Linked DNA regions of Homo sapiens: region 1 is linked to region 2. Evidence: fine-mapped expression QTL. A gene starts in region 2. The other region holds a variant in brackets. All regions are shown on one strand. Distances are between the middles of the regions. Region 1 holds the start of DEAF1 (DEAF1 transcription factor). Region 2 holds the start of CD151 (CD151 molecule (Raph blood group)).

Region 1 (5,355 bases), 140 kb before region 2:
CAGGGGCAGAGCTGCACAGGGGGGACCAGTAGGAGGCGGGGCTGCCACAAAGAAAAGGGGGGCAGGGGGCAGGTGTGTGCAGGGCAGGGCCAGGTCAGGTGAGGCTAGGCAGGTCACCAGGGGCAGGTGTGCGGGGCAGGTGTTTGGGGTAGGTGGGGCAGGCTGGTCACCTGGGGCAGGTATGTGGGGCAGGTGTGCGGGGCAGGTAGGGCAGGCCGATCACGTGGGGCAGGTGGGGAAGGCTGGAAACGTCGAGCAGGTGTGCGAGGCAGGTATTTGTGGCAGGTGGGGCAGGCTGGTCACCTGGAGCAGGTACGTGGGGAAAGTGTGAGGGGCGGGTGGGGCAGGTGTGAGAGGCAGATGTGAGGGGTGAGCTAGTCACGTGGGGCAGGTGTGCAGGGCGGGTGGGGCGGGCGGGTCACGTGGAGCAGGTGTGAGGGGCAGGTGTGCAGGGCGGGTGGAGCGGGCTGGTCACGTGGAGCAGGTGTGAGGGACAGGTGTGGCGGGCTGGTCACCTGGGACAGTTGTGCGGGGCAGGCGCGCGGGGTAGGCGCGCGGGAACCGGACGAGGCGAGAGGCCGGCGGGCGCACTTGCCTGCGAAGGCTGCGGCAGCGGCGGCCTCGTCGGGGCCGGGCAGGGCCTCGGCGCCCATGTCCATGTGCCCGGGCTCCGCCGCCATCACCGCCACTGCCGTGACCCGCGGCGTCTCCCGCTCCGCCTCCGAGTCTGCGTCCTCCTCCGAGTCCTCGTCCCTGCTCAGCACCGGCTCCTCCGCCTCGCCTCCTGCCGCGGCCGCGGCCGCCGCCGCCACAGCGGCCGCGGCCGCCACCGCCGCCGCCTCAGCCAGGCCCAGCTGCTTTGCCGCCGAGTCCGAGTCCTCCATCCGGACTCCGCCGAGCCTTCCCGAAGGCGCCGTCCGGGACCGCCCGAAGCGCCGGTCGCGGAGCCCGAAGCGGGGCCCGAAGAGGACGCCCGAGCTGGGCCGAGGCCGCCCGAAGCCGCCGCCCGAATAGGGACCGAAAAGGCAGCCAGCCGCCGAGCAGAGCCGAGCCGAGTCCGCCCGCGGAGCGGAGCCGAGGCGAACAGAGGCTGCCCGAGTAGGAGCCGAACCTGCACGAAGCCGCCGAGCCGAGACCGAGTCCTGAACCGAGGAGGGTCGAAGTTCCCCGAAGTGGGAAGCCGAATCAGTCCGAATAGGTCCGAGTCCTCACGAGGGCTTCCGAGAGACTCGGCCCCTGCTCTCCTCACTGTCCTGACAGGCTGAGGCGGCTGTCGTCCCCGGCCGACAGGGCTGGACGGCTCTAGGCAGATTCTCGCCGGCGGCCGGCGCAATTCTGCCTCTCAGAGAGAGCTTAGTGCCGCGGGTTTCGCCCGTTCCCGCCGCCGGCGGAAGCCGAGTCAGCCCGAGGCCGAGCCGAGACGAGCCGAATGTCCCCGAGGCCGAATGCTCCCGAACGTCGGTTCTCCACCTCTTCCCTTCCGAAAGTGCCCGAGCGGTGCCGGACGGACTAATCGGGCCTCGGCCGTGGCTCGGACGTCCGCTCCCGAAACGCGGCGCGGTCGGGCCCCTTCGTCAGGAGACGCGAAAATGGCCGAAGGAGCGCGAGCGCGCGGGCCGAGAGGCTGCCGGGATCGCGACGGACCGGCGGGCGGGGCGGGTAAGATGGCGGCCCCGCGGCGAGGTGAGCTCGGGCGGGGTGGGGGCTTCCGGGCTTGCAGCGGCGGGCGCGGCGTTTCCCTGTGGTGACAATCCGGTTTCCGCTTTCGGTGCGCTCACGGGGCCGTGCCACCGTCTCTACGTGAGCGAGACAGCTCCGTCACCCCATCGAGAAGCGCGGCCTGGCCTGGCCTGGGTGGCGGGCGTCCTGCACCCCGAAGAGCTCCCCCGCGCGCGGGCGCCTGGCCCCGGGCAGGGTGGGTGCGGAGCGGCTCTGGGGGCCCCAGTCCCCGGCAGCTCTTGTCCCGCGCGTGGTTTTTGTGAAGACACGTGGGCGGGATGGGCGCAGGGTTTCGGTAGCCTTGGAACTCTCGCCAAAGAAAATCGCGGGCGCCGGTGCCTCAGCCGTCCTGCCTGAGAGACTCGCCTCCGAGAGGAGGAAGGGACAGACCAAAGCAGTAAATCGGCCATCCTGCAGAGGAGCCGCCTTCTGCTGTCTGTGGGTACAGCCAGAACTCCCATACGCGGGCGCTGAAGTGCCAAACCTTCGTGCGTGTTCTCTAGTAATTAGGTGCATTGTTTTGAAGGAATAAAGAATGGCTACTCCATAGGCAGGACAGCCTCTAGTAACCAGGTTTGTTTTGTGTATTTTCATTTGGTTAAAAATTAAGTTTAGGTTGGGCGCAGTGGCTCAGGCCTGTAAGCCTGACAGTTTGGGAAGCCGAGGCTGCAGGATCATTTGAGGCCAGCCTGGGCAACATAGCAAGACCCCCTCTATAAAAAAAAAACTGTAAACATCAGCCAGGCGGTGGCGCACCCCTGTGGGCCAAGCTATTCTGGAGGCTGAGGCTGGCGGATCACTTGAGCCCAGGAGGTCGAGGTTGCAGTGAGCCGTGATGGCGCCACTGCACTCCAGCCTGGGCGACAGAGCGAGACCCCCTTCTACAAAAAAAAAATTAAAAATTACCCCGGGGAAGGCCAGGCGCAGTAGCTCACGCCTGTAATCCCAGCACTTTGGGAGGCCAAAGCGGGCGGATCACCTGAGGTCGAGGGTTCAAGACCAGCCTGACCAACATGGAGAAACCCCGTCTCTACTAAAAATACAAAATTAGCCTGGCGTGATGGTGCATGCCTGTAATCCCAGCTACTTGAGAGTCTGAGGCAGGAGAATTGCTCGAACCCGGTGGTGGTGGTGGGGGGGGTGGGGTGCGGAGGTTGCAGTTGGCCAAGATCGCACCATTGCACTGCAGCCTGGGCAACAAGAGCGAAATTCTGTCTCAAAAAAAAAAAAAATTACCTCAGGGAGCCTGTGGTCCCAGCTACGTGGGAGGCTGAGGCTGGCGGATCACTGGAGCCCAGGAGGTTGAGACTGCAGTGAGCTGTGATCAGGCCACTGCACTCCAGCCTGGGCAACAGAGCAAAACCCTGTCTCTAAAAAAACTAAGTGTATACCAAAACAAGATTTCTTAACACATCTTGTCCATTACATCAGGGAAAACACTTGTTCTCTTTCACTTCCATGTTTAACTTCTGCCTGACACAGCTATTCGTAGCCACATTGTGATTATAGTAAGTCACTGACAAAAAATGTTGTCCTGAAAGCCAAGGCTACGTTCGGTCAGAATGAGCTCCTGCAGGTCTGGAATTGTTAGAACAG[C/T]GTATCTGGTTATAGCCGCCCTTCATATTAATTATTAAAATGTTACATCACTTAAGGCTTTTATACAGTTTTTCCCCCAAGCCCCATAACTTCAATCTATAACAGTGAGCAACTAGCAGACACATTGGAAGTGTTTAAGAAGCCAGCCTTTAAGAAAAGGAACAGAAGGGACAAAAACCCCAATTAATGCGAAATCATCACAGATAATGACAGGTATTTAGGTGGCCTGGTTTAGCTAAGGCCTGGAAAAGAACAGATCGGGTTTAAAGAGTGGCCTGCCGGGAACGCGATGCGGCGTGGTCTGCCGTGCACTTGGCTTCCTGCTTCCATCCTGTGGTGCCTCTTCCAGGAGCCCAGTTCTGAGTCTCTGATGCCGATGTCCTGTATTTACTGGCTTAAAACTCTTGCCTGTGTGAGATTCCACAAACTCTGGCACAGAAGGCCCCAGATCTGCCCAAGAAGCTGTGGGATCAGCCACAAAATCTCACCAACGCCAGGTTTCTGTCCTGCCCTCCCTGGCGCTGAAGGGGAAATAGAACAGAGGCTGTGTTCAGGTTGCTGTCCTGCCTGCCGCCCAGCGGTGCAGCTTGAGCCTCCTTTTATGAGAGGTTTCCACCCAATTCTAGATGTGTATTGAGGTATCTACACATGGAGGGACGTGCACATATCACACGTGCAACTGGCCTGAGCCCTTTTCAGACAATTAGTCCGCTCCAGGTCAGCGTGGATCCAGGGTGAGTCAGAGGCGTCTTCAGATGCAAAACCTCAGAATCAAAAAGGAGGAAAGAGACTCCACTCACTCCTCGGGCTTCCTGTCATCTCTCAGGTGGGGGTGGGAGAAGGCCCAAGAGGTTGCATGATAAAAAGACTGGACAGCTGCATTGCTGGTTTGGAAAATCCTTATTTTTGGAGGGATATTTGGGGATAAAATTTCAGAGGAAAGCAAATGTCTCATCAATCATGAAAAAAGATTTGTTACAACCTAAGTCAGAAAAGGTTTTCATCTAGTCATATATGTGTGGCAAATACGGAGAAGCCACAGACGGTGAGCCACAGACAATGAGAGCAGCTGTTGGGGTGGGCTCCAGGGTGCTGCTTTCCCTGAGGGCCAGCTGGGTCTGGCCCAGGTTCACTTCCCACCCCGGTGCCCCCGGTACTCGCTGTCTCCAGCCTCAGGTTCTGAAAGGCAGAGACTCCTAGCCTCATTGAAGGATGGTTAGAGAGGCACGGGAGCTATCTAGTGGCAGGCCCACGGTATATGTTTGCTGCTTTCTACAAATACGAGATCAAAGGAAAATAAAGCAGGGGTGGTTCCTGTCAGTGTGGAGCGAGACCCGGGAAAGCATCCTGGTGGCTGTCAGGCCTTGCTCACGGCCCCTTTCTCTTTCAGGGAGAGGATCCTCCACAGTGGTATCCTGCTGCGTGCCCCTCCAGGACAGCACCCAGAGGCCCGAATTGCTGCTGCACAGAGAGCACTCGGCCTCACCCCACGTTTTCCCTAAGTTCTGTCTAGTAATTCCACTTTGGAGAGGGGGGTGTTCCTTGACAGATTTAGAGAGTTGATGTAACTTCCTCGGATCAGTTCTGCTGGCTCCATCCCCTACCTGCTCAGCCCTGCACAAAGTGGCTAAGCACGCCACACTGCCGGCTCCCAAGGCGATGGCCACCTGCCTCTGTCTCGGCCGCTAGTGGCAGGAAGATGGAAATCCCTCACTTTGTCCCTAGATTCATTTTATTTTATTTTTGTTTGTTTATGTTTTTTTAAGGACAGAGCCTTCCTCTCACCCAGGCTGGAGTGTGGCAATCACAGCTCACTGCAGCCTCAGCCTCCTGAAGCTCTGGCATCAGGCGGGAGCCACTGTGCCTGGCCCCATAGACTCATGTTAGCATAAACAAATAGGAAATGTACACAGCTCAGGAAATGGCTACTAGATACTTAAGTCCCCCAAACAGAAATATATTTCCTCTGAAGAAACTGAAAAAAGTGGCCGGGCGCAGTGGCTCATGCCTGTAATCCCAACACTCTGGGAGGCTGAGGTG
Region 2 (5,287 bases):
GGAGCGGAGAAGCCGTCTGGAGCTGGAGCTGCAGAGCCGCGAGCAGGACCTGGAACGCGCGGGCCTGCGGCAGCGGGAGGTGAGCACCCGGCCCCTGCCCTGTCCCCACGGTCACCCGTGCACTCTCCCCCTGTGCCTTAGCGTCCCCGGGTTGTCGGGAGCCTGGGGCACGCGCAGCACCCCGGGGAAGAGGGGGCGTTCCTCGCCGGTCTCCATCCTTCCACCCTCCAGTTAGAGCAGCAGCTGCACGCCCAGGCTGCGGAGCACCTGGAGGCACAGGCCCAGAACTCCCAGCTGTGGCGGGCGCACGAGGCGCTGCGAACGCAGCTGGAGGGGGCGCAGGAGCAGATCCGCAGGCTGGAGAGCGAAGCACGAGGCCGCCAGGAGCAAACCCAACGGTGCCGTGGGACGGGGCTGGGCGGGCCCCGGTGCGTGTCCCGGGGGCGGGGCCGACGGGCGCTCAGGTCTGGGCCACTTTCATCCCCATCTCAAGTCCCAGGCCCGCCCCGTGGGAAGGAGGATCTTCTAGGGGGTCCGGGGGCTCCCCAAGGAGCCTTCCTGCAGCCGGGTCACCACCTCCCATCCACAGAGACGTGGTCGCCGTCTCCAGGAACATGCAGAAAGAGAAAGTCAGCCTGCTACGGCAACTGGAGCTGCTCAGGTACGGTCAGGCTCAGGCCCGAGAGGGAATGGGCTCAGCGGAGCTTGGGGGCTCCCAGCTCCCCAACATTCTTGGCTGCCGCTCTACTCCATTGGAAGTCCTTCCTTATGCCTGCCTTTCACCCCTCACGCTGCAGCCTCAGCCAGACACCTCTCTTCGCTCTGAGGGGAGTCGGAGCTCACCTCCCCCCACCTTGAGCTCCCTCAGACCCTCTCAGTGTCGGACTCCTCCTTCCCTAGGGAGCTGAATACACGGCTGCGGGATGACAGGGACGCCTGCGAGGCCAGGCGGGCGGGCAGCAGCTGCAGGAAGGCTCTGACAACAGCCCGCCTGCCTGGGCCCACCTGCTGCTGCTGCTGTTGCTGGGCTCGGCCCCCCAGACGCGGCTCTGGCCACCTTCCCAGTGCCCGGTGACCAGCCCCGAGTGACTCACGGACCATGAGCTAGAAGCTGCCCTTGCAGGAGGCTTGTCATGGGTCGGGGGTGCCCACTCAGGATGCAGGCTCTCCCCAGTGGGCCCCAGGCTCGCCTGACTGAAGACATGAAGGACCTAGCCTAGGAGTGGTCAGGGTCCCGGGAGTGGCCAGGGTCCCGTGTGTGCCCTCTGCCAGTCTTCGCTCTGTCCCCGTTCAATCAACCCCATCTCAGTTCAGCAGAAAACCCCCTCGTCAAATAAAACCCACTGACTGCACTGCGTCCTCCTGGGCCTTCCGTGTGTCTGGGAGCCACAGCCTGTGTGTGCCACATGGATGAGGTGGGCACCTGTGCACGCGTGCTGTGTGGGTGAATACAGGGAGCGCGGGCCTGTGGCGATGGGGCTGAGGTCCTGCGTGTCCTCTTGTGTCCCTGGTCATGCCCCAAACTCACACTACCCATCAAGGCTGGAGCCCCTCGGGGCCCTCGCCAGTGTGTGGATCAGGGCTCCCCACTGTCTCGCCAGGGAGGCCGGGCAGGTTCCCGGCCTCAGTCGGCCACCCCCTCCCATGCTGGTCCTCCCCTGTGGCTGTGATGAATGAGCTTGGTGGGTGGGCAGCCCCCTCCTTCCTCACTCCCACTCTTGGCGTCTTGGTGCAGCCCTAGGCCGGCCCTGCCCTTCGTCCCTCACCTCCTCGCACCGCTCCCAGTGGTCCCTTCCAGTCTGGAGGGCATGGGCCCCCCAGGACCCCATGGGTATGTCTCGCTGGGACCCCAGGCCTGCCCGGGTCTCCAGGCTGTCCACACTGCACGTACAGTAGCCCTTCTCCCGCATTTGCCCACAGCGCTAGGCCCTCCCACGCCCCAGGCCGGCATCGGTTCTGCCGACCCCTGCAGCCTCTGGGCGGTTCCTGGGTGAGGAGAAAGAGATGGGGGTTGGGCATGGAGGAGGGCCGGGTCGCCACAGCCCAGGGCCTCTGGCTAGGCTGGTCGCCGTCTTACCTCCGGGCCCGCCTCCCGCCCAGCTCCTCCGTCCTTGGACGGGATGGGCCCTTGCTGGGCTATTGGCGCCCCCAGGGCTGCAGCTCGCCCGGCCTCCGCAGTGCCAGGTCGACCCCCAGCGCCTACACCCACGCGGGTTCAGACCTGCCGAGCGCCCGCCGCCGCGGGAGGGGCTTGAGGCCGGGGCGGGGCCGGGGCGGGGCGGGGCGGGGCGTCCCCCTCGTAGGCTCCGGGCCGCGCATTCTCAGCGCTGGGAGCCGCCGCCCCCGCAGCTGCTGCCGCCGCCGCCAGGGCCCGGACTCGGACGCGTGGTAGGTGAGTGCGCGGCCACGACAGCTCGGCCGAGCGGGGCGAGCGGGGCGAGGGGGGCGAGGGGCGCGAGGGGGGCGAGGGGCGCGAGGGGGCCGAAGGCCCTGCGCGCCCCAGCCCCGGAGGCCCAGCCGCAGGCGCCGGGAGGTTCCGGGAGGCCGCACCCACCGCCTGGCCCAGCTCCCTCGCCTGCCCCAGCTCCCTCGCCTGCCCTTCCGCGGGAGGCGGACTCCGGGCGGGTTGGGGAGGCGCAGCGGGAAGGAGAGGCGCCTCCCGGGCCCTTGGACCGGCCTGACGGCCCCCTTCAGCCCAGGGGTCCCGGGACGCGCAGCCTGGACACCCTGCTCATTGTCCCTGGACACGGCAGTCTTCCCTCCGCCCGCAGCAGCCCCCGCCCGCGTGCAAGTGGGCGCGCCATTGGCCGCGCCGGGCGGGGTCGGCGGCGGCGGTGACCTCATTGCAGTGCCCCGGGGACGCTTGGCAGGCGCGGAGTCCCAGGTCCCCCTGACTGGGGCTCCCCCTGATAGGGCGCGGGCCGCCCAGGGGCCTGGTGCAGGTCCCGGGGACTTGGGGAGGAACAGACAACTATTTCTGGAAGGCCCTTTCCCAGGGGGTCCAGAGGGACCAGGCATTCCTGGGAAGAGGGGCCACTCCTCAGCGGGTCGCCTGTGTCCTCGCGGTGGAGGACGCATCTGTGCCCAGAACCAACTTCTCCAGAAAGCCTGGGACCTTACAGCCAGGCCAGGGGCAGGTCCTTGAGGGGCTCACACATCCCCCCATCGGTGGCAGACGCACACCCCGCCCCCCGGTGGCAGACACATCCCCCCGCTGGTGGCAGGGTCTGCCTGTGCCACCCTTCCTGCGTGTATTTAGGCCCTGGCTCCTTCATGGAGGGTGAATATCCCCTCTCAGCTCAGTGGTAAGGTCTGTCCCCCTCCAGCTCCATTCCATGATGCCTCTTTCCCAGGCTGTAGCTGCCGCTGTTTGTGGGGGAAGGGCCAGTGATGGGTCTGGAGCGAAGGCCAAGAGTGGGGCACCTGGGGGAAGGTATGAGGTCCCTCCCAGGATCAGACTGTCCCGAAATGTCGTCTGCCTTGGGAGGCCAAGGCGGGTGGAACATCTAAGGTCAGGAGTTCGAGACCAGCCTGGTCCACATGGTGAAACTCTGTCTGTACTAAAAATACAAACATTAGCTGGGCGTGGTGGTGGGTGCCTGTAATCCCAGTGACTCAGGAGGCTGAGGCAGGAGAATTGCTTGAACTCAGGAGGCGGAGGTTGCAGTGAGCTGAGATCGTGCCATTGCACTCCAGCCTGGGTGACAGAGCGAAACTCCATCTCAAAAAAAGAAAAAAAGAAAAAAACAAAATGTCTTGTGCCTTGCCCCACCCTAGCCCAGACTAAAATACCGGGCTTGGCCACTCCTCTCTCTGCCTCCAGAATGAACCCGGCCCACTCTGGCCCTTGGGCCAGACCTGTAACCTGTGACCTGACATGTCCTTGCCCCTCTAGCCTAGAGTCCTGGGGAGCTTCTGTCCACCTGTCCTGCAGAGGAGTCGTTTCCAGCCCGGCTGGTGAGTGCTGGCCAGGGTGGGGCAGAGCAGGCGGGGCGGCGAAAGTCCAGACCTGGCTGTGCTGTCTGGAAACGTGGCCCAGGGCGCTCAGCTGCTGTCTGCACCCCACGCCCTCCCTGGCTTCCCCATGCTCACAGCTTGCCCACTGCTGCAGGTCGGGCGGGCACGGGGCATCTGGGGAGGGGCATAGCCTGTCTGTGCTGCCCCCTCAGGTTGGTGTGGGTCGCCTGTCCAGGAAAAACCCTCCCAGTCTGCCAGGCTCCACCTGCCTCCACGCTCCATTCTCCCCACCCCGGCCAGGATGAAGGAAGGGCTGCCCTTTAACAGACCGTAAACAGGCCTGGAGAGCTTAGGAAGGGGCTGAGCTGGGGCCTGTCTGAGCCCCTACCCCTCTGCTGTCTGAGTGGCCTCCTCCGCCCTTACTGCAGGCCCATAGGCTCCTGCCAGCCTGTGACGTGCGGCCCCGGGAATGCCGTGGGGAGCGGGCAGGCTGGCATGAGCTCACCGGAGGTACCCGCTAGGGCTTCCTCCCCCGGCCGCTAGCAGGGGTGAGTCAGCAGTGATGGCGGGAGGTCCTCCATGACCCCTGTCCTGTCTGTGGGCACCAGGGGTCTGTCCTGGCTGTCAGGGCTCCTGAGTCGCTAGGAAGTGACACGTCCTGTTCCCACAGGGGCTCATTCACAGGCCTCCCAGGACAGTGGCTGGCTCTGCCCCGACTTCTGGGCTGGCTTGGGTATCTGTGTCCCCTCTTTTTTTTCTTTTTTATTGAGATGGAGTCTCACTGTCGCCCAGCCTGGAGTGCAGTGGCACCATCTCGGCTCACTGCAAGCTCCGCCTCCCGGGTTCATGCCATTCTCCTGCCTCAGCCTCCCAAGTAGCTGGGACCACAGGCGCCCACCATCACGCCCAGTTAATTTTTGTATATTTTTGATGGAGATGGGGTTTCACCACAATGGCCAGGCTGGTTGTGAACTCCCGACCTCAAGTGATTGCACCTGCCTTGGCCTCCCAAAGTGCTGGCATTATAGGCATGAGACACCGCACCTGGACTCCTTTCCTCTACTTTCTTTGGGTTAATTTGCTAGTCTCTTTTTATTATTTATTTATTTATTTTGAGATGGAGTCTCACTCTGTCGCCCAGGCTGGAGTGCAGTGGCACCATCTCGGCTCACTGCAAGCTTCGCCTCCCGGGTTCACGCCATTCTCCTGCCTCAGCCTCCCAAGTAGCTGGGACTACAGGCGCCCGCCACCACGCCCGGCTAATTTTTTGTATTTCTAGTACAGACGGGGTTTCACCGTGTTAGCCAGGATGGTCTTGATCTCCTGACCT

The links.
Region 1: its variant is fine-mapped to the expression of CD151 in whole blood (TOPMed, PIP above 0.99).

What each region holds. Positions count from the first base shown.
Region 1 is chr11:694,164-699,518 of GRCh38, forward strand. DEAF1 (DEAF1 transcription factor) reads right to left here and starts at 1,059. Exons shown (of 12, transcript NM_021008.4): 1 at 596-1,059. The coding sequence starts at 884. It overlaps TMEM80 (transmembrane protein 80), which reads left to right and starts at 1,653. Exons shown (of 5, transcript NM_001042463.3): 1 at 1,653-1,683; 2 at 4,706-4,725. The coding sequence starts at 1,665. RefSeq lists silencers at 431-680, 701-820, 831-1,130, 1,631-2,050 and enhancers at 496-1,035, 1,036-1,577, 1,578-2,117, 2,658-3,197. The variant C/T (reference allele first, on the strand shown) is at 3,316.
Region 2 is chr11:830,635-835,921 of GRCh38, forward strand. It overlaps CD151 (CD151 molecule (Raph blood group)), which reads left to right and starts at 2,318. Exons shown (of 9, transcript NM_004357.5): 1 at 2,318-2,392; 2 at 3,896-3,957. It overlaps CRACR2B (calcium release activated channel regulator 2B), which reads left to right. Exons shown (of 9, transcript NM_001286606.2): 6 at 1-79; 7 at 232-398; 8 at 590-661; 9 at 901-1,352. The coding sequence ends at 1,075. RefSeq lists silencers at 1-141, 1,994-2,643, 2,654-2,883 and enhancers at 481-1,020, 1,021-1,558, 3,715-4,254.